Homo sapiens: one gene and its partners. The protein of the gene in region 1 purifies or fractionates together with the protein of each later gene. This does not show direct contact. Each region holds a gene or a part of one and is shown in the gene's direction. Other genes may lie near its edges. The genes, in order: MORN5, DHTKD1 and CHST15.

What was found.
Region 2: the proteins of MORN5 (region 1) and DHTKD1 purify together in Homo sapiens (affinity purification with mass spectrometry; one large-scale study listed by BioGRID and IntAct). This does not show direct contact.
Region 3: the proteins of MORN5 (region 1) and CHST15 purify together in Homo sapiens (affinity purification with mass spectrometry; 2 studies listed by BioGRID and IntAct, with this or other methods). This does not show direct contact.

What each region holds. Positions count from the first base shown.
Region 1 is NC_000009.12:122,166,192-122,169,919, forward strand, and holds part of MORN5 (MORN repeat-containing protein 5), read left to right. Parts: intron 1-576; coding exon 577-724; intron 725-3,453; coding exon 3,454-3,565; intron 3,566-3,728.
Region 2 is NC_000010.11:12,089,454-12,092,953, forward strand, and holds part of DHTKD1 (2-oxoadipate dehydrogenase complex component E1), read left to right. Parts: intron 1-2,059; coding exon 2,060-2,231; intron 2,232-3,500. UniProt on the Homo sapiens protein: 2-oxoadipate dehydrogenase (E1a) component of the 2-oxoadipate dehydrogenase complex (OADHC). Participates in the first step, rate limiting for the overall conversion of 2-oxoadipate (alpha-ketoadipate) to glutaryl-CoA and CO(2) catalyzed by the whole OADHC.
Region 3 is NC_000010.11:124,045,070-124,048,797, reverse strand, and holds part of CHST15 (carbohydrate sulfotransferase 15), read left to right. Parts: intron 1-2,073; 5' UTR 2,074-2,585; coding exon 2,586-3,131; intron 3,132-3,728. UniProt on the Homo sapiens protein: Sulfotransferase that transfers sulfate from 3'-phosphoadenosine 5'-phosphosulfate (PAPS) to the C-6 hydroxyl group of the GalNAc 4-sulfate residue of chondroitin sulfate A and forms chondroitin sulfate E containing GlcA-GalNAc(4,6-SO(4)) repeating units.

The sequences.
Region 1 (3,728 bases):
CCCTCCCATGACATGTGGGGATTATGGGAGCTACAATTCCCGATGAGATTTGGGTGGGGACACAGCCAAACAATATTAGTATCCAAGATTATATATATATATAATGGTGGTAAGCTTCAAACCCTTACTCCTGTCTCTAAATTTCATATTTTCCCTAATATTCCACTTGTGGCATAATAGGCAAGGATGGGTTGGTCATGGGGGACAGAGAAATCACAGAACTAGCTGCCAGAAAACCTGGGCTCTAGTGTCCACAGTTTTTACTGTGTGTGGTTTTGGGCACATCTCTACGCTCTCTGGGCCTACTAGGGGGGTTTATTTCAGGGAGCAGTGTGAACTCCAAGGTGAGAGTGAGCCTCTAGGTGAAGGGGAGAATGAACAGAGCAAACTCTATTCCCCTCTTTTCGTTTTTGAGCTTTTGAGGGAAACAAAACAAAAATTTTGTTTTCAGCAGAGTACTGCTGGGATGAGAAGGATGAGAATGCTGAGAACGGGGTTCCTGCTCACTCTGTTGCCTGCCAGCTCTGATCCTCCAGCTGTCACACAGGGCTCAGTGATTTCCCTGTGTCTTTACAGGATGGAGGGCAAAGCCAAGTACATCCTCCCTACCGAAACAATATATGTTGGGGAAATGAAGGATGGCATGTTTCACGGCGAGGGAACCCTGTACTTCCCCAGCGGAAGCCAATACGACGCCATTTGGGAAAACGGATTGGCCATAAAGGTGATCAGCTGGGGGGACGGATGCTGTGGAGGAGAGATCCTCACGCAAGAAGAGCCTCACCCTCTGGCACCCCATCCTCCCTGTCTGGTGCCCACCTTGTTCCATTCACTCTTCTCTTTGCTTCTCCCCCACTCCCCCCACTTTTTTTTTTTTTTTTTAGTCTCACTCTGTCACCAGGCTGGAGTGCAGTGGCACAATCTCGGCTCACTGCAACCTCCGCCTCCTGGGTTCAAGCGAGTCTCCTGCCTCAGCCTCCCGAGTAGCTGGGACTACGGGCGTGCACCACCATGCCCAGCTAATTTTTGTATTTTTAGTAGAGATTGGGTTTCACCATGTTTGCCAGGATGGTCTCAGTCTCTTGACCTTGTGATCCACCCGCCTTGGCCTCCCAAAGTGCTGGGATTACAGGTGCGCAGGTGTGAGCCACCGCACCTGACCTTTTTTTTTTTTTTTTTTTTTGAAAACGAGTCTCTGTCGCCCAGGCTGGAGTGCAGTGGTGTGATCTCAGCTCACCACAACCTCTGCCTCCTGGGTTCAAGCTATTCTCTTGCCTAGGCCTCCTGAGTAGCTGGGATTACAGGTATGTGCCACCATGCCCGGCTAATTTCTCCCTGCTTCTGGATCTCCCAGGGCTCTAGAATCCTCTCCCTCTAGATCTGGAAGGATCTGTGGAGAGGCCATGATGAGTTTGCATCTGTTACACCACTTACTGCCTGATCTTAGGCCCACGACTTCACCTCCCTGAGAGTTCTTCACCTATCAACTCGGGACAGTTAGTTGCATTAGTTATGTGTTGGTACTATAACAGGTTACCACAAATTTAGTCTGAAATCAGCACAAATGTATTATCTTACAGTTCTAGAGCTCAAAAGTCTGAAATAAGTCAGCAAGCCTGCATTCCATCCAGAGGCTCTACGGGAAAACCTGTTTCCTTGCCTTTTCCAGCTTCTAGAGGCTGCCTGCATTCCTTGGCTCATGGCCACGCATCACTCCGACCTCTGCTTTCATCATCACGTCACCCTTCGTCCCTCTGCTTTCATCGTCATCTCTTCTTCTCTCACCCTGACCTTACTATTTCCCTCTCATAGGAACCTTGCAATCATATTTGGCACACCCAGATAATCCAAATAATCTTCCCACTTCAGGATCCTTCATTTAATTGCATCTGCAAAATCCCTCTTGCCATGTAAAGTAGCATATTCACAGGTTGCAGCAGACAGGGACATCTTTGGGGGACCATTATTCAGCCTACCACAATAGTACAAGGCACCTCAATATATATATGTGAACACTTTGCTAAGTTCCCAGCACACAAGAGGCACTCAATAAATGTTAGCTCTTATTACCACCATCACTGCTACTATCATTATAACTTACCTAATCCAAGGATTCTTACCCCCTGGTATTTGTGAGTCATGAATAGAATTCAGGGAGTCACTGAAACCTCTTGATTTATATACAGAAGTTTCTGTGTAAAGGGGACTAAGTTTTTCTCCAGGAAAAGCATCTATAGCTTTCATCAGTTTCACTAAGAGCATCTTGGGGCCTGACTCATGACCTAAAAAAGGTTAAGAAAGGCTCCTTGTTTTATAGCTTGGAGAGTCTAAGCCCCAGGAAGGGGATGTGACTTTCCCGAGGTCACACAGTGAATTAATAGTATCATTGGAATTTCCACCCGTGTTTCCTGATGCCCAGGCCAATGCAATTTCTACATCCTGAGGCTTCCTTTAGCAGTAAGGCAGCAAAGGCAGAATGTATGTGTTTGGACAAAGGGCCGTGGCTGATGGCTCTGACCTTTCCAGCTATAATAATAATAAAAGAATAATAACATTTATTGAGTGCTTACTTTGTGTCAGTGTGTCAGTCAGGGTTCTTCAGAGACACAAAACCAATAGGATATATAGAGATGTATGGAAAGAGATTTATATTAGGGATTGGCTCACAAGATTATGGAGGCTAAGAAGCCTCCCAATCTTCCCTCTGCAACCTGGAGGCCCAGGAAAGCTGTTAGTGTAGTTCCAGTCCAAACCCAAGGGCCTCAACCAGGGGGATCAATGGTGTAAGTCCCAGTCAGAGTTCAAAGGCCTGAGAACCAGGAATGCTGATGTCCAAGGGCAAGGAAGATGGATGTCCCAGCACAAGCAGAGACAGGGAATTGGCGCTTCCTCTGCCTTTTTGTTCTATCCAGACCCTCAACGGATTGTATGGTGCCCACCCACTTTGGTGAGGGTGGAACTTCTTTGCTCAGCCCACCGATTAAAATGTGAATCCCTTCTAGAAACGCCCTCATGAACACACCCAGAAATGTTTTACCAGCTATCTGGGCATCCCTTTCACTTAACCCAGTCAAGGTGTCTCACAAAATCAACCATCACAGCCAGGCACTGTGCTAAATGCTTCACGTGTGCTATCTCATTGAATTTTCAATCAACCCTATTTTATGTACACTATCATTAACTTAATTTTACAAATGAGGAAATGAAGGGCCAGAGAGAGTGGGTCGTCTGCCCAAGTTCATCTGCCAAAGTGAGTTCACCCACTTTGAGCGGCAGGGACAGGGCTCGGCACTTATACCCATTCCCTCTTGTCGTCACAACCATAATAATTGTGATAGTTACCACTTCTTTACTGCAGCCATCAGAAAGGCCCCCACTTCCCTTGACATCTGAACCTCTTGGCCAAAAGCCTTCAGCTTCCTCAGATGCACGTGTGTGCTCCTTGTCTTCCAGGGCACATATACGTTCTCAGATGGGCTGCACTATGATGAGAAAAACTGGCATTACTGCGACGGCTATGATCGGAGGTTTTACACAGAGATCCTCAATGGCTTGAAGCCTGCAGGTACCCAGGCACCCACCCTTTCCTTCATACCCAAACTGAGAGGGAAACTAAGACAGTTTCGGATAAGTGGACTGTGTCCTACTAAAGTAACTTAAAGGGGAAGAGGAACTGAGCAGGCGTAGAAGAATGCAAAAGAGCCAGGTCCTGGAGCCAGGAAGGCCAG
Region 2 (3,500 bases), on another chromosome or scaffold:
TTCCACTTCTGTTTTCCTTGCATGGCTTATGAATTAACTTGGGGTTTGGGCTGGCAAACCTGCTCCTTCTTAGAGCACAGATGTCATTATCTCTCTGGAAGTATGGCCTTCTTGGAAACTTTGTGGTTCCCATACATATAACAAGACAAGCGTGAAAAAAAAAAAGACTTTAAGTGTGGTTTTACTTCGTTTCTTGTTTACTTTATTATCTTTTCTTTTTTATGGCTTTTTTTTTGAGACCGAGTCTCACTCTGTCACTCAGGCTGGAGTGCAGTGGCGAAATCTCAGCTCACTGCAACCTCTGCCTCCTGGGTTCAAGTGATTCTCCTGCCTCAGCCTCCCGAGTAGCTGGGACTACAGGCACGTGCCACCACGCCCAGCTAATTTTTGTATTTTTAGTAGAGACAGGGTTTCACCATGTTGGCCAGCCTGGTCTCAAACTCCTGACCTCAAGTGATCCTCCCACCTCAGCCTCCCAAAGTGCTGAGATTACAGGCATGAGCCACTATACCTAGCCTATTTTTTTTTTTTGCTTGTTTATTTGAAAATGAAAGTCTTTGGTATTAAGGCACATAACACAAATTATCAGTGTGGTTCGTTCTTTTTCTACCCTGTCTCCCAGTTTTTGGTAACACAACAAGTATCTTTTAGAGGTTTGGGCTGTGGTCATGTTTCTTCTGTGAGTATTCATTTAAATATGAACCTTTAACTACAGGAGATCATGAAACCTGGATTTCAGAATCAGTCTTCAAATTCCACAGAAATAGATAAATATATAAGGCAATCAAATATTCTATGTTTGTAAATGCCACGTTATCCTATGCATTTTAATTTTTCACAGGCCAGAAACTTGTAGTGAATAAATTGGGAGTAGGCAGAATTGGATTTCATTATGATATGGCCGGCCCTCCCTCCCTTCCTTCCTTCCTTCCTTTTTTCCTTCCTTCCTTCCTTTTTTCCTTCCTTCCTTCCTTTTTCCTTCCTTCCTTCCTTCCTTCCTTCCTTCCTTCCTTCCTTCCTTCCTTCTTCTTTCTCTCTCTTTCTTTCAAGATGGGTTCTCAATCTTTTGTCCAGGCAGGAGTGCAATGGTGCAATCATAGCTCACTGTAGGCTCAAATGCCTAGGCTCAAGCAATCTTCCTGTCTCAGCCTCCCAAGTAGCTGGGCCTACAGGTGCATGCCATCATACCTGGCTGATTTATTTTATTTTATTTTGTGGAGACATGATCTTGCTGGGTTGGCCAAGCTGGTTTCAAATTCCTAGCTTCAAGCAACCCTCCTGCCTTGGCCTCCCAAAGTGTAGATATTACAGGTGTGAACCACTGCACCTGGCCTGATAGGGTGTTTCTAAATAGAAATCTTGAAATCATTAGCCAGACATTCTGTTTACCTTTCACATAATTTATAATACTCTATTTTAATCCTTCATTTTTACCCAGTACATTGAGCTGATCTTAAGATTGTGGTGGCGGGCGCCTGTAGTCCCAGCTACTCGGGAGGCTGAGGCAGGAGAATGGCGTGAACCCCGGAGGCGGAGCTTGCAGTGAGCCGAGATTGCGCCACCGCACTCCCGCCTGGGCAACAGAGCGAGACTCCGTCTCAAAAAAAAACAAAAAAAGATTGACTTCTGAAATAAAAGGTGAAAAGGCCATTTTCTTTAAAATGATGATAAATGAGGCTGGTCGCTGTGGCTCATGCCTGTAATCCCAGCACTTTGGGAGGCCAAGGAGGGTGGATCACCTGAGGTCAGAAGTTTGAGACCAGCCTGACCAACATGGTGAAACCCCGCCTCTACTAAAAATACAAAAAATTAGCCGGGTGTGGTGGTGCATGCCTATAATCCCAGCTACTAGGGAAGCTGAGGCAGGAGAATCACTTGAACCCGGGAGGCAGAGGATGCAGTGAGCTGAGATCGTGCCATTTCACTCCAGCCTGGGCGAAAGAGCAAGACTCTGTCTCAAAAAAAAAAAAAAAAAAAGTTATTCCAACCTGAAAACCTAGATTTCTTAATCCCTTATGTTTCTTTTCTCCCCACCCGCTCCCCTTGCCTCATGATTTAGGTCCATGGTGATGCTTCTTTCTGTGGTCAAGGGATTGTTCCTGAAACATTCACGCTGTCCAATCTCCCACATTTCAGAATTGGTGGGAGTGTGCATTTGATTGTTAATAACCAGCTGGGTTACACCACTCCAGCTGAAAGAGGAAGGTCTTCTTTATACTGCAGTGATATTGGTACGTAACACAGGGAGGAACTGATATTGCTGAAGCCGACATGGAATTCCTAGGGAAACCTCTGGTGCACACAGAACAATGAGCCTCACTGGTTATCCCTCCTTTCATTTAATTAATTAATTAATTAATTAATTTTTTGAGATGGAGTCTTGCTCTGTCACCCAGCCTGTAGTGCAGCAGCACGATCTTGGCTCACTGCAACTTCTGCCTCCCGAGTTCAAGTGATTCTCTTGCCTCAGCCTCCTGATTAGCTGGGACCACATGCGTGCACCACCATGTCTGGCTAATTTTTTTTTTTTTTTTTTTTAGATGGAGTCTTGCTCTGTTGCCCTTTCCAGCTTGTACTCCATGCTGGAGTACGTGATCTCGGCTTACTGCAACCTCCGCCTTTCAGGTTCAAGTGATTCTCATGCCTCAGCCTCCCAAGTAGTTGGGACTACAGGTGTACACCACCACACCTGTCTAATTTTTGTATTTTTAGTAGAGACGGGGTTTCACCATGTTGGCAGGCTGGTCTTGAACTCCTGACCTCTGGTGATCTGCCTGCTTAGGCCTCCCAAAGTGCTGGGATTAAAGGCGTGAGCCACCATGCCCAGCCTATCAGTGTGATTTTTAAATCCAAAGAAATAAGACAAGGATGGAGCCACAGTGTGCCATCTCAAATTTCTTATAACTGGATGGGTGATCTGGTACAAGTCAGAGATCAACACAATGAGTACAACACCAGAGTTGTTATCTCTAGGATATTCAAACTTGGAGTGCCCAGGGGCTTAGTGATAAGGGATGTGTTCAACCACTAAACTTGGTGAAATAGTATAGTTAGAAATAAGATGTGAAGGCTGGGCACAGTGGCTCACGTCTGTAATCCCAGCACTTTGGGAGGCTAAGGCAGGTGGATCATCTGAGCTTGGGAGTTCGAGACCAGCCTGACCAACATAGAGAAACCCCGTCTCTAATAAAAACACAAAATTAGCTGGGCATGGTGGTGCATGCCTGTAATCCCAGCTACTCGGGAGGCTGAGACAGGAGAATCACTTGAACCTGGGAGGCGGAGGTTGCAGTGAGCCAAGATCAGGCCATTGCACTACAGCGTGGGCAACAAGAGCGAAACTCCATCTCAAAGGGCAAAAAAAAGAAATAAGATGTGAAGAATCAAAGTCAGCTTCTTTTTTATCTGTGGAAATTGGTAGGTTTTTTTGTTGTTGTTGTTGTTTTGAGAGTCTTGCTCTGTTACTCAGACTGGAGTGCAGTGGTACAATCATGGCTCAC
Region 3 (3,728 bases), on another chromosome or scaffold:
CCGTGTTTTGTTTGCTTTTTAAAGAATCTAATTCGATTTTCTGCAGCAGAAAGACAGGAGGGTGCGAATTCCCTCCCCGCTGAGCTGCTGGTTGGAGTCTCATTTTTAACCCCGGCTTGGCCCTGTCTTGGACATGTGAAAAAATGTTTTCTTGGCTTTAATGATGGAGTTTCCAAGTAGGGGATCTTGCCCTTTTGTTTCTTTAGTTTGGAAGAATTGTTTGTAGCAAGCGATGGGTCAGGGGTGGTTGAGCAAGTTTGAAGCAGAGGTTGATCCTTGAGGTTTCTGACATGTCCCTCCAGCTGCCCTCAGGGATAAGAGATGGGGGTAGGGCCTGAGATGTCTGGCCTGGCTTCCCAGAACTGGCCCCTTCTGCATCCCCGCCCCAGCGCCTCTGCAGGACTCAGGTCTCAGCCTCTACTGACCAGCCTTTCTCAAACTGGCTCCTTGATACCCTAGTGAGATTCCTTGGCCAATTAGGTACTTCCAACTTTGTGTATTATATTCCTCTCTTGTGGATTCACAGGGCTTATTAGCATATCAAAGGCCCTGAAAAGTTCAGCTGTAAAGAATTCTGTGTAATTTTGTCCATTCCACATTTTCTCCAAATAATTTAAGCACAGAACACTCACCAACGGCAAGCAGAACATTTTGTGGGAGGAAGACATTTTGGGAAACACAGCTTGGCTGTTTCTTGGCCACCATATTTTGAGAAAACATGAAGTTTTCAGTCCAAGGGGCATGAACATTTCTTCTGTTGAGTTCTGATTGTTTAATCCTTCAGCCAGTACATGGCGATCTTGATGCGCGGTTAGTTAATGCTGCCTCTATGGAGACAGTGAGGGTTGTTTGAGGGGTGGCGTGGGTAGAGTTGGAGATGAGTCTACCACTCTTGGGTAATTTTCAATTGCTAAAGAATAATCATGTGGTATAGGATCTCTCATCTTTGATTCCATTTCAAATGTTTTTGGCATTCACTGACAATGAAAAATCATCATCATAATAGTTGATGATGCTATTATTATCAATGCTGTCTACCTTTTATGGTATGCTAAATATGTGGCAGGCATTATTCAAACTGTTTACATGTAGTAGCTAATTTAGCACCTGTTAAGGTGTCCTTATTATCCTAATTTTACTATTGAGGAAACCAAAGCTCAGAGAGGTTATGTGGCTTGCTCAGGGTCACACAGCCAATTAGTGGTGATCTACCACTGCTAGAAACTGAGTAGGTCTCCTTTTATGCTTATCCATGGCTCTTTCTACGACATCTACAAAGAAGTGTCATTTGGGCAACAATATATTTTATAACCACAGGATTCTATTAATGGGTTTTTAAGAATCATATCTTGCTCGAGATGATGAAAGTGAAAAATTATGTCAGGTTCTGAAGCTCTGTGTCACTCGAGGGAATCCTATACATTGGATTTAATTGCTTAATAACTTAAAGTCAAGTAGTTTTTTAATATGATACATTCTACTGAAGGAGAGACTCATTTCATTGTTTCTAAATTTTCATTAACTTTTGCTTCCTAATCTGATAATAAAGGTTAACTCTAAGAAAGAGACTGCTGATGCCAGTGAGAGGGAAAAAACACATTTTCTCTGCCTGCTCCCTTTCTAACCATCCTCCTTAGTATTCTTGAGATTTTTCATTGACTGAAAAGCACTGATATTTCAATCCATCCCTCAAATTTGTAGTCATTGACTGTGCATGACTCTGAGAATGATCACAACATCCTGGGATTCAGAGATCCTGTACCTGAGAAGTATCAAGGCAGAGGGATTAGGGGAGATGTAGACTATGCACAATGTGAGACGTTTGATGTGGCGCTGGTGGTGCTGGGATTGGGGCCATGTTTGGTGGCAGAAATTGAGCCCCAAAGCCAGCTGCAAGAACCTGAAACCTCTTCCTTTATGCTCGCGATTTTCTATGACTTGCTTAGAACCAGGCTGGCTTGGCTGGACTTAGAGGTGGAAAAGAGAGTGAGCATCTGTCTCTCCTTGGAGGATGAGCTTTGGGTTATTGCTATTACCACACAATGTAATAAAGCTTCTTGTCTTTCTGTGTAGGAAATCTGGCATTTTTTAAAGTTTGCGCCCCACAAAGAGGAAATATTCCAAAGGTACTCAGGATGTAAAAGGGGAGATCTTCACAGATGCCTCCGTGGATGGCATGGCAATCCATCCATCAATGAGAAGACCATGATTTCTTTTAATTTTCTGTGTGTTTCCACATTCCCCAGTGAGAATTCTTCCACCTTTTTTTGTGCCATGGGAAAAACCTGAAGGGCAGGCAGAGCTGCTCCCGAACTTGTGACCTTCTCTGAGGTTGCAGCGGCTCTTGTAGAACATGACTCTGGGACATCACTTCCTTTTGTTTTCTTTCGGAGCTGAACCAAAGAATGTGCACCCTCTTTCTCTAGTGCTGTGGTGTCTGCTTATTTTTGTATTTGTGCTTTCCATCCATCTTCTGTGATCACAAGGCATTCTTAAGGTTTTCTAGCACGACTTGCGGACATCCAGACTCGTGGGGGGCCCACCCATGGCTCGGTAAGCCAGCAGCCCAGGGCACTGGCACTACCATGAGGCACTGCATTAATTGCTGCATACAGCTGTTACCCGACGGCGCACACAAGCAGCAGGTCAACTGCCAAGGGGGCCCCCATCACGGTCACCAGGCGTGCCCCACGTGCAAAGGAGAAAACAAAATTCTGTTTCGTGTGGACAGTAAGCAGATGAACTTGCTTGCTGTTCTCGAAGTGAGGACTGAAGGGAACGAAAACTGGGGTGGGTTTTTGCGCTTCAAAAAGGGGAAGCGATGTAGCCTCGTTTTTGGACTGATAATAATGACCTTGGTAATGGCTTCTTACATCCTTTCTGGGGCCCACCAAGAGCTTCTGATCTCATCACCTTTCCATTACGGAGGCTTCCCCAGCAACCCCAGCTTGATGGACAGCGAAAACCCAAGTGACACAAAGGAGCATCACCACCAATCCTCTGTAAATAATATTTCATACATGAAGGACTATCCAAGCATTAAATTAATTATCAACAGCATCACAACTAGGATTGAGTTCACGACCAGACAGCTCCCAGACTTAGAAGACCTTAAGAAGCAGGAGTTGCATGTGAGTAGCTTTGTGCTAATCTTGACTGATTGGTTGATTTTTAGAAATGAGTGCTTTTCTTTCTATCACCATCTTTGGGAACACAGAAGGAAAATGACTAAAAAATGTCTTAGATGTAGCAAGGATCATTTGACAGCCTTATGGATTTGAATGCACTGAGAGAGTGCTGTTTGCTTACGCTATGGAGTGCCAGGAAGGGAATCTGCTGTCCTGAACGCTGGGCTAGGCATGTTCAAGGGCCGCTGGCTCTCATTATTGCATTCCAGGACTTCTTGCTTGATATGTGGTCGTGGTAGTTAACAGTTGCTTTTGCAGATCACCATCATTTGGGATTTTAAAGTTGCGTTAAATTTGATTTTCTGCTTCTATTCTACATTTTAATCTCTAACGGCAATTTAAATATACAACTAGTAAAAAGATTCTGCTTAATTACCGTGTGTGCGTGTGTGTTGTGTAAGTGTCAGAAAGGTAAATTATGGTAGAATGGATTTTAATTAAACTTTTATCTTTATTCTCTCCAAGTTTTTTTTTTTTTTTTTTTTTTTTTTTTTTTTGTGGGGCGGCGGGGGAGAGGAAAGCACAGTCATTGACCGTCTA